Regions from separate parts of the Homo sapiens genome. Here region 2 is linked to region 1. The links come from fine-mapping of genetic effects on gene expression. A gene starts in region 1. The other region holds a variant in brackets. All regions are shown on one strand. Distances are from middle to middle.

Evidence for each region.
Region 2: its variant is fine-mapped to the expression of CIMIP2C in thyroid (GTEx, PIP 0.99).

What each region holds. Positions count from the first base shown.
Region 1 is chr2:26,557,809-26,566,138 of GRCh38, forward strand. CIMIP2C (ciliary microtubule inner protein 2C) reads left to right here and starts at 4,779. Exons shown (of 4, transcript NM_001105519.3): 1 at 4,779-4,878. The coding sequence starts at 4,805. It overlaps OTOF (otoferlin), which reads right to left and starts at 948. Exons shown (of 47, transcript NM_194248.3): 1 at 685-948. The coding sequence starts at 763. RefSeq lists enhancers at 309-1,102, 1,103-1,895, 4,553-5,053, 8,300-8,330 and a silencer at 4,651-4,790.
Region 2 is chr2:26,538,000-26,546,329 of GRCh38, forward strand. The region is part of intron 1 of OTOF (otoferlin); the gene reads right to left. Among named protein-coding and RNA genes, the nearest start is that of OTOF, 17 kb to the right of the region's middle. RefSeq lists enhancers at 1-686, 5,059-5,793. The variant G/T (reference allele first, on the strand shown) is at 3,575.

The sequences.
Region 1 (8,330 bases):
CTTGTTCCACGCCTGCCCAACAGATGCAGGCTCCTTGGGGCTGGGGCTGGGTTGTGCTCAGCTCTGTGTTTCTACCCCTATCCTTGGGACACAGTAGATCATAATAAATGGTCGCTGAATACAGGAGTGAAAAGGATGAGAAAAGACCAGACAGAAGAGAGGCGAGGGGCTCCCGGGGTTCCCGCCCATGAATAGATCTAAAAGAAGCCAACAGTGTCCCCCATCACTCTGGGGCCCAGGGAGCTACTGGCTGCCTGGTTTCTCCCAGTCACCCTGGGTGCCCCAGGCTCCATACCCGGCCCCCACCCTGTGCTCAAGGAAATCAACCTGCAGGAGAGGGAGAGAGAGAGAAGGAGGGGGTCCTGGGTCTCCCTGAGCTCAGGGATGTGGTCCTCACTTCTGCCTCCCCAGGCAGAGGGCTCTGTGCCCTGCCCGGGGAACTGGCATGTTGGCAAGCACAAGGAGACACAGGCATGGAAGAACAGGGGACCCTGATTTTCCAGAAATCACAATGGCCAGTCAGTCCCAGGCAGATGACTACCTGTGAAAAGGCTCGTCGCCCCAGCCCCTGCTAGAACTTTTCCCACCCATCCTCCCAGCCCTGTCCTATCCCCGGCCACCTCCAGAGCATGGGCTGGTCCAGCTCTCAGAGCTGGCGTCCCTCTGAGACAGCGGCTTCCCTACCTCGGAAAGTCACTTTGGCGATCCGGTCGCCCCTGCCCCGCAGCTCCGAGACTGTCTTGAGGTGGATGAGCAAGGCCATGCTGGTGTGGGCTGCCTGGCACTGCCAGGCAGGAGCAGCGGGAAGGAGCTAGCCGGTGGAGCACGGCTCACACGCCTCTCTCTTCTCTGCCGCTGCCTCCTCCTCCTCCTCCCGACCCCCCTCCGATGCTGCCCACAGAGACCAAGGCAACCAAGCCGAGCTAAGCTGCTCCTGCAGCGACTCACAGAGCCTCACAGCCCCCGCCCCTCCAAGTTGTCAGCCCAGCGTGTGTGTATCGGTGTGTGCGTGTGTGTGTGTGTGTGTGTGCACCCAATGTGCAGCCTGGGAGTGCGGCAGAGTTGGAATTCATTATTCAGCAGCCGCCGGCTCCCAGATAAAGCTCTGTCCAGCTTCAGGTGTCTTCTCCCAGCTCCTGGAAGGGAGGCTCTGCCCACCCCTCTGCAGGGCTCTGCTGCTTCCCTGCTAAGCAAGCCCTGCCACCAGTAGTGGGCACAGAGGAGTGGGCATGAGCATAGGTAGGGTGGATGTGGGGCGGGGGGCACTCCCACCCACAGGGGCACACTACAAGAAGAAGGGAATGTATTTGTCCACCTACGCCCACCTCTTCCCTGCTGGAGACTGTGCCCCCAAGAGGCTGGGCCCTGAGCCCTGCCCTGGGATCCCTGTTTCTGAATCTCAGGAAGCAGAGAGGCTGGGGCTGCTGCCTGAGGGGAGGCTCAGGACCAGGCCATGCATGATGGAGATGGCTGGTTGTGGAGGCAGCAGAGGCTTATGTGCTACCAGGGGCCATGTTTAAGGATCCAGGGCACTAACCTAGCCCCACCCCAAGGCTGGGGGTCAGGCAGGCTAGCGAAGGTAAGCCAGGCTGATGTTTGCTTTCCAGCCAGAGGAGCAGAATTGAATGGCCTTCTGCTGTTATAAGCTGCTAGGGGCAGGAGAAGGGATGTCTATAGGGAAATTTCTAAGGACCAAAAGAGAACTGCCCCCTCCTGTCTTCCAGCAGCATACACCAAGGAAAGGGACGCTGGGGGCCAGAATCCCTGATGCTGGAATCTGTGCAGGGTCATCTGCAGCCTTGTTCTTGCTATTCATTCTTGGTGGAATGCCCTCCACCCCACCCTGGACTCAGCTTGAGTGCCTGCTCCTGGAGGTGCCTCTGTACCCGCACCCCAGCTGGGTTGGGGTCCTCCTCTGTGCTGCTCCTGCCTCCTCTCATCTTACTGAGTCCTGGGGCTGCTTCCCTTGCCTTTTCCCCTCCTGACCTCAGGAGGGCCCTGGAGCACAGCATCCCTCTACCCCAGAGCCCCACATGGTATCCTGTGCACCGTAGGATGCCCAATTACTGTTGAAAGGATAAAAGAGTGAGCTCAGGGATCTACCTGAAACAGAGTCTAAAGGTTAAAAAGAGAAATACTAATTTTTCACAGCATGGTAACAAGAGGTTACTTCTTTTGAATTCTGCATTCCAAATAACCTACAGTATGTCCCAAGAGCCTTCTTTCCTCCTTCTAGATATTTCCTTGCTACTGTGCCCTATTTTTCTTTTTCTACTTACGTTTTTTTCCTTTGCACTTTTTCCTAACCAATTCTTGCTTACCTTTCTCACATTTATCTAATCATATTGAATTTAAAAATGTCTTAGAGTATTCTGTTTATTGAATACAAGTATGAATGCTAAATTTTCAAAAGCTAGATAAGTTTAATGTCTTAAAAAAAAAAACACCTAAATTCACTAGCATTTTCCATCCATGAGGTCATCAGGTGATCTGTGTTTTTAAGGCTTGGTGACTACAAGGTACAACAACAACAACAGAAAATATCTTCTTCCTTGGTTCTCTGGAGGTCCTCCCCTGAAAGGAGTGAATTTCATGAGGCCTCTTATAGACCCTGTGCATCTTTAGGAAAAAGCCCATGATCCTGCCCTAGCCAAGGCATTGATCTATGCTGAATCTCACTTTCCACATCCATAAAATGGTAGCAATTCCACTCAGCAGCTCTCAATGGAGTCAGCTGGCCTTTCTGAAAACCTAAGAGACAGATCCCACTCTTTTTTTTTTTTTTTTTTTGAGAGAGAGTCTCACTCTGTCACCCAGGCTGGAGGGCAGTGGAGTGATCTAGGCTCACTGCAACCTCTGCCTCCCGGGTTCAAGCGATTCTCCTGCCTCAGCCTCCCAAATAGGTCAGACTATAAGCATGTGCTACCATGCCCAGCTAATGTTTGTATTTTTAGTAGAGATGGGGTTTCACCATGTTGGCTAGGCTGGTCTCAAACTGCTGACCTCAAGTGATCCGCCTGCCTCGGCCTTCCAAAATGCTGGGATTACAGGCATGAGCCACCGTTCCCAGCCAGAACCCACTTTTTAATTTCCATTCTTCTGTTACCCATTTTGGTAACTGAGTATATAATTTATGTAATGAACATTTACTGAATTCTTTCCAGAGCCAGGTGCTGAGATTCAGGGATGAATATGATATGGATGGCACAGGATCCCAATCAGACGAGACAGATGGACTAGAACACAGGCAGGTGGAAGGCAGGGTGGTGGGTTTACCAGCAGGACTGGCTGGGCAGCCCTGAATGGGGGAGGAAGTAGGCGGTCAACCTCACCAGGGCTGGGGGTCTTTGACTCATGTTTTCCTTATTGTAGAACATGTTCCCCAATGAGAATTTAGAAAAATACAGACATGACTGCATTCTGAAGGATGGATGGATTTTCCTTCCACCCAGTTTGTTTGCAGCCGTTCCTTTGCCTACAGCTCTCTTTCCAACCAGGCCTCAGTGTTTCTGCTTCCTGAGCCTCTGGGAAGCCTGTGGCTCCCCTTCATTTCATTGGCATTTGCCAGGGGAAGTCTTTGGAGAATGCTGGTGGCAGCCACATTCTGTGAACCCAGTAGCGTCTGCGGTCTTCATCCACTGCCATTTACAGAACCGAAGTGCGAGGGGAGCACTGCTCTCCATCCGGCATCTGAAGGGAAGAAGCAAGACCTGGAGACAAAGTGGGAACTGCCAGGCTTCTTCATGACACCAGGACTGCTGCAGAGGGAGCTGGGGTGGCAGGGCCTCCACCCGAGTCACCAAGAGCCTGGCACCGTGGAAGCTGTCCCCATACCCTCACCCCTTATGGAAAAGCCGAAGGCCCTGTGCCTGCCCTAGGCACCAAGGCTGGTGTAAGGGTCCCTGGAGAAACTCAAATGTGGAGGCTGAAGCAGTCACAGGGAGGATTACACAGGGGGTGGGCCTTCAGCAGGCCTGCTCTCTGGGGCAAGCGCTACCCCTGCGGATGCCATCCCCAAAATGAACGGCAGCATTGGGGACAAATGTAAATCACACACCCAGACGTTCTATGATTTTCTTTTTGCCTCTTGTGGAGTAGTTTACAGGTATGATGAGGTGAGAAGGAAGCCATCAGCTAGAGATTAAGAAGAAAAATGAAAAATGCTCCTCTTCGCAAGGCGCGCACACACACACGCACACATGCACGCACGCACGCACACACACAATTACACACAGCGTCCTAGGCAACCTCGCCCAGCGCGGCCCACTACAGAGCCCCTTCCTGGAACTCCCATGGAGCTGGGGTGCAGGGGAAGCCTTGGAGAGACATAGCTCCTGGGGACCCTAAGGCCACTCAGGTTTCTGGGCCTGAGCCACGGTGGGGCAGCTGCTTCGTGCGTGACCTCCAAAGTCAGGACCTGGCCTGTCCTTTGTGGTAGCGTCGCGTTCCAAGCCGGGTCACCGCAAGACGGATCCCGCCAGGCCTCTCCAGCGATGTTCTGCCTCCCTCCCGCATCTGAGCCTCTGCACATCCCGCAGGCAGCAAGGCAGAGAGCCCCGACGCGCCGGGGCAAGTGACAGGGGTCACCCAGCAGAGCTCGCGGAAATGGGAGGCGCCTTCTGGGCGCGCCCTATGGGGCTGCTCCGGGAGGTGGCCGCCAGGGGGGCGCAGTGTCTCGGAACGCGAGGACCGCGGGGCCAGCTGGCGTTGCCAGGCTCGCCGCCGTGGCCGTTGCCAGGTGACCCGCCGCTGTTTACCGTGGGGCGGAGCGGAGCGCCAGGCTCGCTGTACTCGCGCACCCACCATGGCCTCCCGCAGCGCGGGCACCCTACTGACCGAGTTCAATGCCGCCTACGTGCCCCCTGGACTCATGCCCGGGTAAGGCCGAGGGAGCGCCTCCTCCCCTCCCCCTTCCACTAGCGCCCTCCTCGGTGATCGAAATTCAGCCCCCTGCCCCCGGACTTTGGGGTTGAAGGAACCCCGAGGAGCCAATTTTCCACCCGACGGGGCGAGGGGCCTTCCTAGAGGTTTGTGGTTTCAGAGTAGGAAGTGGGCAGGCACGGGCGGGGGCCTCCCCAGATTCCCCTTCACAGGAAGGCGCTCCCTGGCAAGTGGGGCACAGCCAGCAGGGCATAAGGGACCTCGCATGGATGTAGCCGGGGAAGGGGGAGGAGATGGAGCCACGTGGGGTTTAGTGCTTGGAGACGCCCCAGGCGGGCAGCCTCCAGCGCTTAGAGAAAATGCGAGAAAATCAGGCCCTTCCGTCCGGCGCACAGGGCCAGCACCCAGCATTCGGGCAAGGTCAGTACTTGTTGGTTGAAGGAGGGAAGGATACCGGGTGGGTGCCCGCTCGAAGAACCTGGCAAGGCCGGAAGAGCCGTAGTTAATGGGTCATGTGTGCAGTACCCGCCCGACTTTGCGGTCGGTCCTTTCACAGACCTCCCTTTATCCTCCCAGAAGTTTTTCTTGGAAAGCTTCCTGGCCACTTGCCCTGAGCGCTGGCTTGCTGTTTAGCACTTTCAAATACTAGGTTACACCTACCTTTCTTTACTCTGGATATTTTCAGACTCCAACCATCTAACATGCAAGTCTGGCTGTTGCCTCCTGTTCTTTGGCTCTTTCTCCTACAGTGTCTGATGTTTCTACTCTGGACCGCCTCTCCCAGGGTGTAAGGCTGTCTTTATCCCTCCTACCAGTCAGCATAGGTACTGAGAACAGGCACTGGATTCTGAGAGGCAACCTGTACAGTATCAGCAAATCTGTATAGAATGAATGAATGATCCTAAGAACCCTTGTCTGAAAAAAAGAGTGAACGAATGAATGAAATGAATGTCTTGAGGATTCTGCAGGCAGAGTCTCCAAATGGGTGAAAAAGCCCGCATGCTCTCCCCTGCAATCGGAACAGATGGCAACATGAAGAAAAGTGTATTTGGTATGAAGTTGAGATTGTTTTGAAGCAGAATAAGCTAGACACAGAGGTGCTGTGACATTCAAATCATTTCTGGAGGCTGCATGAGAAAGTAGCAACCAGGGGCTGGTGCTGTAGTTTTAACCTAGCCCATTTGTGGATGCGACCTCTCTCTGGGCCTTGGAGGGAGCTCAAAAGCTACCAGGGTTCCCATCAGACAAAGCTGATTTACCAGGTCATGGTAGTTTCCCGAAGCCAAGCCAGGTGACTTAGGATTTGCCCGTTTTCCTTTATTTAAGACATTCATGTGGGTCAGTGCTTGGGACATGCCAGGTGTTATGTTAGGAGGCTGGGAAGACAAAGACAAACAAGTGAGGGGCTGCCCTAGTGTGGTGTAAACACATAAGGTTTAGTTCAAATCCATTTTTGCAGCCTTGGATTGTGGTGCTGACACCACATTCTGGGTGTTCATCATGAGATTTGATTTTATACATTGACTTTTTTTCTTAAGCCTCCCACAGTCTCCAGTTGGAAAATTTTCTATTGTCTGACTCCTGGACATTTCCCATCTGAGGGGCAAGGCCTGGTGCTCCTGCAAACCCTGCCCCACAGTTCCCCAACTCTGTTTGGCAGGGGTGGGAGCTGCAGGTTTCAGAAGCAGTCCCCAGGGTGCTTTCCTATTCCTGCCACTTCTCAGCAGTTCCCTTGAGCGCCCTGTCCTGTGATTGATTTAGAAATGGCAATAAGAGGATCATGAATGAGGCTTCAAGCCTGGACTGGGCTAGTTTGAGCAGCTGAGCCCGTATCTGCTGCTTTCTCATCTAGATCTTTCTGGAAGGGTTGTGTTCCCCTTAAAGATTCCCATCAGCAAGGGATGAATTGAGTCATTTTGTGTTTCCAAATGCTACCTCGTTGGCAATTCTGTTAACTTAATGAAAGAACCCAAGATTCCCGACCACACTTGGATAATTCTTATTTTTGTGTGTCTGTTCAAACACTAATCACAGGATTTTAAAGCACAGCCAGTCTCTTCTGACACTCACATCACCCTGCTCTTACCTGCTTTATTCATAGAGGCGAGAATATTCATGCTGGTGTGGACCTCAGAGATCATGTAGCCCTGTCCCCTCCTGTTCCAGATGTGGTCACTGAGGTGTGGGGGGACTTGCCTGAGCCCCACGCTGGTGATTGAAGTGCTGGGCTGGAGCCAGGTCCCTAATGCCTGGCAATAACACCATGATCTCCTAAGTCTGAGCTCCAACTATGTACCAGGCACTGTGCTGGGCCCTTCACAACATTTTCTTCTTCTTCTTCTTCTCCTTCTCCTTCTCCTTCTCCTTCTTCTTCCCCTTCCCCTTCCCCTTCCCCTTCCCCTACCCCTTCTTCTTTTTTTAATGGAGTCTTGCTCTGTTGCCCAGGCTGGAGTGCAATGGCGCAATCTCGGCTCACAGCAACCTCTGCCTCCTGGGTTCAAGCAATTCTCCCTACCTCAGCCTCCTGAGTAGCTGGGATTACAGGCACGCGCCACCACAGCCGGCTAATTTTTGTATTTTTAGTACAGGCGGGGTTTTGCCATGTTGGCCAGGCTGGTCTCGAACTCCTGACCTCAGATGATCAACCCGCCTTGGCCTCCCAAAGTGCTGGGATTACAGGCATGAGCCACCACGCCTGGCCTTTTTTCTTTTTTAAAATCATCACAATAACCCAGATGAGGAATGAGCAGCTTGCCCAAAGTCATTCAGCAAGTTGCCGAGCCTCGGCTTTGTGACTTCAACGCCCCAACTCACCCCAATATCTCCCCAACCGTCATGTGGTGTTTCACACTGCCTCCCTCATTTAGCAGGGAGGGAATGGGGTCGACAGTAAGAGATGGACTCTGGAGCAAGCCTGCCTGGTACGAATCCTGGCTCCATGACTTCCTTACCCTGGGCAGGTTACTTATCCCCCCTGCCTCACCTACCTTATCTGTTCAATGGGGATGATCACGGTGTGCAGGTTAAAGAGGTTTCAGTTAGTTAACATGCGTAAAGCCTGGCACTTGATCATTGTTAGCTGTTATCATTAGTTAGATCTCTACTGTGTTCAAGATCTGGTTCTAGGAACCCCGGGGAACATGAAATAATAACAAAGCTGGTCTTCAGCCTCGCCGGCCAGGGTGCTCCATTTGGTTCCATGCTGTTCCTGGGGACACAGCTCCTAGGCACCTTGCCACAGGCAGTGCCTGCCTACGCCTGGCCTGGGTGCTATTCCTGCAGTGGGCAGGAGCTCTTGGGTCAGAGCCCCTGAGATTTGAAGGGGTTTGAAGGGATGAGATTGGCCTCAGTGAGGATCCAAGCTTCCTGCTTGCAAGTCGGATCTGGGTGGCATCCACTCCTCATTCTCTGTTTCTGGCCATGCCTCACCGGCTCTCAGTGCAGACACT
Region 2 (8,330 bases), 20 kb before region 1:
CCATGTTAGGAACGGGAATGCTAAGGCACAGAAGGCCCAGGCTGGTCAGAGTGGCCGTGGAAGCGGACCTCAGGCACTCTTTTCCACCATGTTCTTCCTCCATGGATCTCTCAGCCTCCTCTGCAGCCTCCTCAGCTCTGCTGGTGGCTCCGGGCCCTGCTGCCCTGAGCAGAAGCCTAGTATAGGGGGCGTAGCCCCTGCCTGCCGACAGGGGTCTGTGAAGCCCAGCCTCCTTCTGCAGCCACCCCAGGGGTTCCTGCCCAAACCAGGCCCCCAACAACAAGTCAGCTTCCAGACAGCCATTCCCCGTGGGCCAAGGGCCTTCCCCTTCCACCACTGTCATGGTTGTCCGTCTTCCTGTCAGCCTTAGCAGAGAAGACAGTCTCTGGCAGTTCCCTCCCGGGCTCTATTCCTGCCCCCACTTTCCCCACTGGCATGGGAAGTAGAGAGTGTGTGAGATGGACACACATTGTCCCAGGCTCCCCCATCCATACGCCACCCACTAGGGCATGTTGGGAGCACAGAGGTAAAGCTGCCCTCTTTGCTAGTCCAGCTGGAACTGGCCCAAGATGTGGGGAGAAATAAGTCAGGAGAGAATCGAGGGCAGGTCGAGGGGGCTCCATCGTGTGGGAAACACCAGCTAGTTCAGTTCACTTTGAGAAACAGCCGCTGGAGTCTCTGATGTTCTAGGCCATGTCCCGGGGCCTCGGGATAGAGGATGGACCAATGACAAAGGCACAGGCTCCCACCCACAGGTAGCTGATGGTCTAGAAGGGAGGCCAGGAGCCAACAGGGCACCAGTGCAAGGGAAACACCATTTTTTTTTTTTTTTTGAGATGCAGTCTTGCTCTGTTCCCAGGCTGGATTGCAGTGGCACGATCTCGGCTCACTGCAACCTCCGCCTCCTGGGTTCAAGCGATTCTCCTGCCTCAGCCTCCTGAGTAACTGGGATTACAGGCGCCGCCACCATGCCCAGCTAATTTTTGTATTTTTAGTAGAGACGGGGTTTCACCATGTTGGCCAGGCTCGTCTGGAACTCTTGACCTCAAATGACCCGCCCACCTTGGTCTCCCAAAGTGCTGGGATTACAGGCATGAGTCACCGCGCCAGGCCTCCAGTACAACACCATTCAGTACATACTCCAAGGTACAATTTCGCACAAGAAACAGTAATGGTACAGAGAAGGGAGGATAAATACTGTTTTAGGGATGGGATGGAACCACAAGAGAAGGGGTTGTAATTTCTGTGAGGAGAAACCTAGAGACAGGATGGGTTAAAGAAAAATTTGTTGCTTAGAATTAATTTATTATCCTGTGTCAATTCCATGGTAAGGGAAAAAAGGCAGCATGTATATTAGAACTCCATTAATTAAAAAAAATACCAAAACCCAAACTATATGCATATATTTCTTCTATGAAGAGACAAACATCTCAAACCACTGAAAGTGGTTACCCCCCTGGGCGCAGTGGCTCACGCCTGTAATCCCAGCAATTTGGGAGGCCGAGGCGGGCGGATCACCTGAGGTCGGGAGTTCGAGACCTGCTTGACCAACATGGAGAAACCCCGTCTCTACTAAAAATACAAAAATAGCTGGGTGTGGTGGCACATGCCTGTAATCCCAGCTACTCAAGAGGCCGAGGCAGGAGAATCGCTTGAACCCAGGAGGCGGAGGTTGTGGTGGGCCGAGATTGCGCCATTGCACTCCAGCCTGGGCAACTAGTGAAACTCCATCTCAAAAAAGTTAAATAAATAAAATAAAAAAGAAAGTGGTTATCCCTGGGGAGGGAGAGTGAGAAGATATTGAAAGCAGCATACTTTGATGTGAGCCACTGCACCTGGCTGAAAGACAAACAAAACAAAACAAAACAAAATGAAATGTGAATTTGAATTTTTTTTCAGTGACCATGCTTGATTTTTGCAATTGAAAGACAAACACCCTTTTTGTTTGTCTTGAGACAGAGTCTTGCTCTGTCACCCAGGCTGGAGTGCAGTAGTGTAATCTTGGCTCACTGCAAACTCTGCCTCCGGGGTTCAAATGATTCTCGTGCCTCAGCCTCCCAAGTAGTTGGGATTACAGGCATGCGCCACTGTGCCTAGCTAATTTTTTTACTTTTAGTAGAGATGGGGTTTCGCATGTTGGTCAGGCTGGTCTCGAATTCCTGGCCTCAAGTGATCTCCCACCTCGGCCTCCCAAAGTGCTGGGATTATAGGTGTGAGTCACCGCGCCCAGCCGAAAGACGAATACCTTTAAATCTCCACCAGCATAAACCATTTCATTGAAGGGCTGTCTCCAGGTTGAAGCCATTCCTATTTGGGGGTGAGTTTGGGTTGTCACTGATGAAGCCCATGGCATGGGTGGAGCGGACTGTGCTCCTCTCCCTACAGAAAACCTGGGAGCCCGGGCTAGAGCGGCGTCAGGCCAAGGAGGTACTGGAGGGGTCAGAGCTCCTCTGAACCTTCCCTGTGATGGGTCTGGGGGCTGGGCAAGGAAGGGGGCTCAGCAAAGCAGGCTCGTTCCCTCCGGGAACTGACCTCTCTCCTCTGTCAGTGGTGGCCTCATCTGTTTAGTAAGAGCTCTCCAGGGTCCTAGCAACTTTTATGACCCAGGAGCTAGTCCTAGTTCAATGCAGAGCTCCCCTCTGACGAGGGCCGGGGGTGGCGGGGTCGTTGATGTCAGATCCACTGAAACAGAGAGTGTGGATGCAGTCTGAAAGGGTGTGTGTTCGTGTGTGTGTTTTGGGGCGGGGGCAGGTGGGGAAGGGCTGGCTGCATCTGAGATAAGGAGGAAAAAACCATAAAGCAGAAGCTATCTATACGGCAAAGAGATGTGAAGTAAACATGATGGGAAAGAAAGAATGTTTAGCACCAGCCAGAGACATAAAAAACAAAAAAATCAACAAGAAATATCTCAACAACAAGCCCCCGGGCAATCAAGGGAGGAGAGGGAAAGTGCCTGAGGTTTGAGCTTTTAATTTTCCCCGCAGGTAACACACAATATAAATTGAGAATCAGCTGAGCATGTTTGTGTATGGGGGCTTCCCCTAAAGACCTGCTGCTCTGAATAACCAAAGGCCTTTGCATCCTAGAAGATTTTAATAAGCCTCGGATATAGCTGTCCTCCGGGGTCTCTTGGAGTGAAAAATGCAGCAACCCAGCGGAGGATTGGGAGAAGGTGGGGAGGGGCCCTGCTCCAAGGTGGTGTCAGATTCACATCTGCAGGAAACACCGAGGATCAAACCCTCCCCTGCTTGTGCATTTTTCCATAGCTTTGTTAGAGAGGAAGTAAAATACGTGAAATCAGCCATTGCAGAATTTATACATCAGGGTTCTGTTTCAAAATGTGCTAAAACCTCATTGATTTAGGCCCTGGGGATTTAGAGATGGTGAATATTCTCAAACATGATGAGCTAAATTTACCTGTAGATATTCTTTTTTAAAAAAGGTTTGCTGAAACACATCAATCATACAGAAACAGTGGAAAGGCCAAATTATTAAGAAAACAAAATGTCCTTCAGCATTTTGGAAGAGCCGTTTCAGGAGGGTATGTACAAACAGTGGCTGGCAGTATTCAAGT[G/T]GTTCTGTTCTGTTCACTGGAGCAGAGGCAGGGGACCTCCATCATCTGTTCCAAGTGATCAGGGGGATGACTAACCCCATCTCTTGTTTCAAGTTCATTTCCACTTCACATCTACTCCATTCAGCGTCAGTCTTGTTGACATTCCAGCTTCATTTTAAATGGCTTTCAGATAAAACCATTACAAATCCCAATATCCAATCACCTTTCTTGCCACAGGGAAAATGGAGAATAAAGCTTGAAAGAAAATAGCCTCTTCCTTGCATGGAAAGGCTGTTGTGGATCGAGTGAGAAGGAGGTTCGATGGGGGAAATAGAACAGCATCCTCCTTCCTTCTGAGGCAGCTGCTCCTGGGATAGCTGAGCTGTTTGGTTTGAAATAAACTCCTCCCTGAGTCAATAGATGGAGTATGAATAACAGAGTCTGTGCTTAAAGTGTAACAAGTGCCATGGTATCAGATATACCCATTTCTCCTTTCACCATTTAAAAATACCCACACGACAGATCTTCTCCAAATGGAGACGAGCTCAGTGCTTGTTTCAGAAGCAGGATGCCATGCTGGCCTTTCATGGGACATGATTTAAGGGGACAAAATGTTCCATCTGCACAAAATAGCTCCCTCTTCCAGACAGCTTACCCTGCTAGGGCCACACCTCTGAGAAAAGGCAGGTGTGCAGGGACACGGCTGCCAGCCCATGTGTGTTCATTCATTTCCACAGGCAACCAGGGCTTTCTAGCTCCTGGCTTGTGTGCCATTTGGCCTTCACAGAGGGGAGTTGTACTAAGATCATTCGAATCTGAACGATGCCTTTAAGAGCGTATTACAATCCAGAGGGAGATATATCAGACATGGAAAATTCTGCCGATGATACAAGGCAGAATTTTGTCATTGGCATGCAAAAAGTGTAAATAAAGTGAGAACACAGGAAAAGGAGCAATGACTCTCAATGTAGTGGATTAAGGAGGCATTGCAGAGGCACACGCATTGACGCTAGAAGACCAGAAGAAATCTGGATATTCAGAGAGACTGGGAAGCAAGGAGAAGGAGGGAAATCCAGGCAGAGAGAACAGTGTAAGGAAATGTTTGAAAGCGTAGAGCAGAGAGTAGAGCCTCCAAGGAGCTGGACACAGGACAGGGGAGTCCCGATGGTGAAGGGAAAAGCAAGAATGGTCTGCCCTCAGGGAGCAGCCTGTGGAAGCAAGACTGGAGAGGGGCTGGGGTCCCGAAAGGGCAGAGGGTGAGGTGGTGGGCCATCCGAAGGGGAAGGAGAAGGTCCTGGGACTGTTTTCAAGGACGTCGTGATTTTGCCAGGGCCCAGCCCACTAGCCTATCTCCCAGCAGTGCCTGCCATTGCTATTGTCCCTGTGTGAGCTGAGAAATAGAGTAAAACTCTGCTGGTGACTCAGACCTGGGGCTGCTATTTCCTTGTGTTATTTAAAATCAGCAAAGCCTTGTTGTATGCACTGCCTGGGCTGGGCTGTACAAAGCTCAGCAAATAGTCCCATTCCCTCCCACAAAGCTCCCATGTCCTGGCGTCTCCTCTCCCTCTCTTCCTCTACAGCGACTCTCTGAGTGATGGTCCTGCTGTATTTTCTCTCTCCCCACTTCAGATCGATCTGTTCCTTTTGAAGGCCAGATACTCCCATGGAGCACCAGGAAGCAGGGCCCAAGCACCCCTGCGTGCAGGAAAAAGCCAGGCCCACTCAGGTGTGCGGCCCGGCACAACGGCCCATGGTCTGGAGGCCTGGGAGCTGGCCATCCAACCCCTTGGGGTCTCAGACTCACCATCTGTTAGCCGGGGGTCATTATCCTGGACCAGCCTGTGTCCTGGGACCATCACGAGGATGACAAGAAACTGTTGTGGGAAAGTCTAAGTAAAGCATCAAGTCCTTTACAAGCACGAGGGGGCATGGGATAGAGGTTAAGGCTCTTGGGCCAGAGTCCCTGAGTTCAAATCCCAGCTGCCTCTTCCTAGTTTGCGTGCCCTGGATGAAGCTAATTAACTTCTCTTTGCCCTTGTTTCCTCACCCTTAAAATGAAGGAAATAATAATGCTTACAATAGCATTTGGTGCAGTTTATCCCTCAATAAGAAACAGCTATTCTCAGTCTACTAAATAGTCTTGTTTCTCCTTCATTCTATTTTGTTTTGAATTTATTTTTTTGAGACGGAGTCTTGATCTGTCACCCAGGCTGGAGTGCAGTGGCGTAATCTCCGCTCACTGCAACCTCCACCTCCTGGGTTCAAGTGACTCTCCTGCATTAGCCTCCTAAGTAGCTGGAATTACAGGCGTGTGCCACCATGCCTGGCTAACTTTTTTTGTATTTTTAGAGAGACAGGGTTTCACCAGCATGTGGCCAAGCTGTTCTCAAATTCCTGACTTTAAGTGATCCTCCTGCCTTGGCCTCCCAAAATGCTAGGATTATAGGCGTGGGCCACTGCGCCCAGCTTGCTTGTCCTTTAGACCTTTAAGTTATGTGCTAAATATAAAAATGGCTTCTTCTATTATGAATCACATTTGTAGCTTATTTTTAGTAGCATGGAATCAGAAATAATTTTTTTCCTCATCTTATATAATATTTTTCAAGTTTTAGGTATTTTAGATGTGAGTCTCTCTTCTTTTTTTAAAACTAGGTGAAACTTACATTCATGGATCTTAAGTGTAAAATTCAATGAGTTTCAATAAATGCATTTCCCTGTATACCGCCACACAATCAAGACATAGAACATTTCCATTTGTTCCACATGTTCTCTCATGTCCCTTTCCAGTCGATTTCTAGTCCCTTAGTAACCAGTGCTCTGATTTCTAGCACCAAAGATCAGTTTGCCTGTTTTAAACTTCATATAAAAGGTATCCTACAGAATGTACTTTTTGTGTGTCTGGCTTCTTTTGGTCAAGGTAATGTTTTTGTGATTCATCCATGTTGTTGCATATATAAGTAATGTATTGATTTTTATTGTAGAGTAATAGCCCGTTGCATGCCTATACCACAACTTCTTGGTCCATTTCTCTGTTGATGATAAACTTTTGGGTGCTTCTAGGGTTGGGCTATATGAGCAAAGTTGCTGTAAACATTCATGTGAGTCTTTTTCTGAAAATATAATTTTATTTCTCTTGAGGAAATTCCTAAGAACAGAATGGTTATGTCACAGGATAGGTACCCTTAGCTTTATAAGAAATTGCTGGCCGGGCGCAATGGCTCATGCCTGTAATCCCAGCACTTTGGGAGGCTGAGGCAGGCAGATCATGAGGTCAGGAGATGGAGACCATCATGGCTAACACGGTGAAACCCTGTCTCTACTAAAAATACAAAAAAAAAATTAGCCAGGCGTGGTGGTGCGAACCTGTAGTCCCAGCTACTCGGGAGGCTGAAGCAGGAGAATCGCTTGAACCCGGGAGGCAAAGGTTGCATTGAACCAAGATCACACCACTGCACTCCAGCCTGGGTGACAGAACGAGATGCCATCCCAAAAAAAAAAAAAAAGAAAAGAAAAGAAAGAAATCGCCAAATAGTTTTCTAAGGGGATTGCATCATTTCACACTCTTATCAGCAATGTAAAAAAAATTTCAGTTGTTCCATCCTCATCAACATTTGATTACTGTCAGACTTTTACATTTTAGCTATTTTAGAGCATGTGAAATAATATCTCTTTGTAATTTTGATCTTCATTTCTCTAATGACTCAGGATGTTGATCACATTTTCACATGTTTATTGGCCATACGTCTATCTTATTCTATGGAGTGTCTCTTCAAGTCTTTTGCCTACATAAAAAATTTCATAATTTGTCTTATTATTATTGACTTATAGGGATTCTTTATATATTCTGGCTACAAGTCCTTTGTCAGATAAATGTGAATATTTTCTTCCTGTGTGTGACTTGCCTTCTCTTGCCTTCTTAAATGTGATTTTTTTATGAATAGGAGTTTTCAATTTTTTTTACTCTGTGACTAGCCAAAGAGAGTTTCCAATTTTTAAGAAATGCAAGTTTTTAGTGAAATTTATTTCTTATGTTTAGTCTTTTAAAATTTTTCTTTAAGAAACCTTTGCCTAACCCAAGAATACAAAAAAAGATGTTCTATATTTTCTTCTAGAAGCTTATAAGTTTTTAATGTTTAATTCTATAATCCATCTTACATTAATTTTTGTGGATGGTATGAGGTAGGAGTTTGAAGTTCATTTTTTCTCCATATAGATACCTAGTTCTAGATATCCAACACCTTGATTGAAAATCAATTGATTTTATATGTACAGAGTTTATTTCTGGACACTATTCTGCTCCATTGGTCTATATGTCTATTCTTAGACCAATGCCACACTTTCTTAATTCCTTTAACTTTATAGTTAGACTTATAATTAAATATAGTTGACCCTTGAACAACACAGGGATTAGAGGTACCAGCCCCTCATATAGTTGAAAAGCTGCATATAAATTTTGACTCCCCAAAAACTTAGCTACTAATAGACTACTGTTAACCAGAAGCCTTAATGATAACATAAACAGCCAATTAACACATATTTTGTATATGTATTATGTACTGTACTTTTACAATAAAGTAAGCTAGAGAAAAGAAAATGTTAGGAAAAAAGATAAGGAAGAGAAACCATGGCCAGGCGAAGTGGCTCATGCCTGTAATCCCAGCACTTTAGGAGGCCGAGGCTGGTGGATCACTTGAGGTCAGGAGTTCGAGACCAGCCTGACCAACATGGTGAAACCTCGTCTCTACTGAAAATACAAAAATTAGCTGGGAGTGATGGT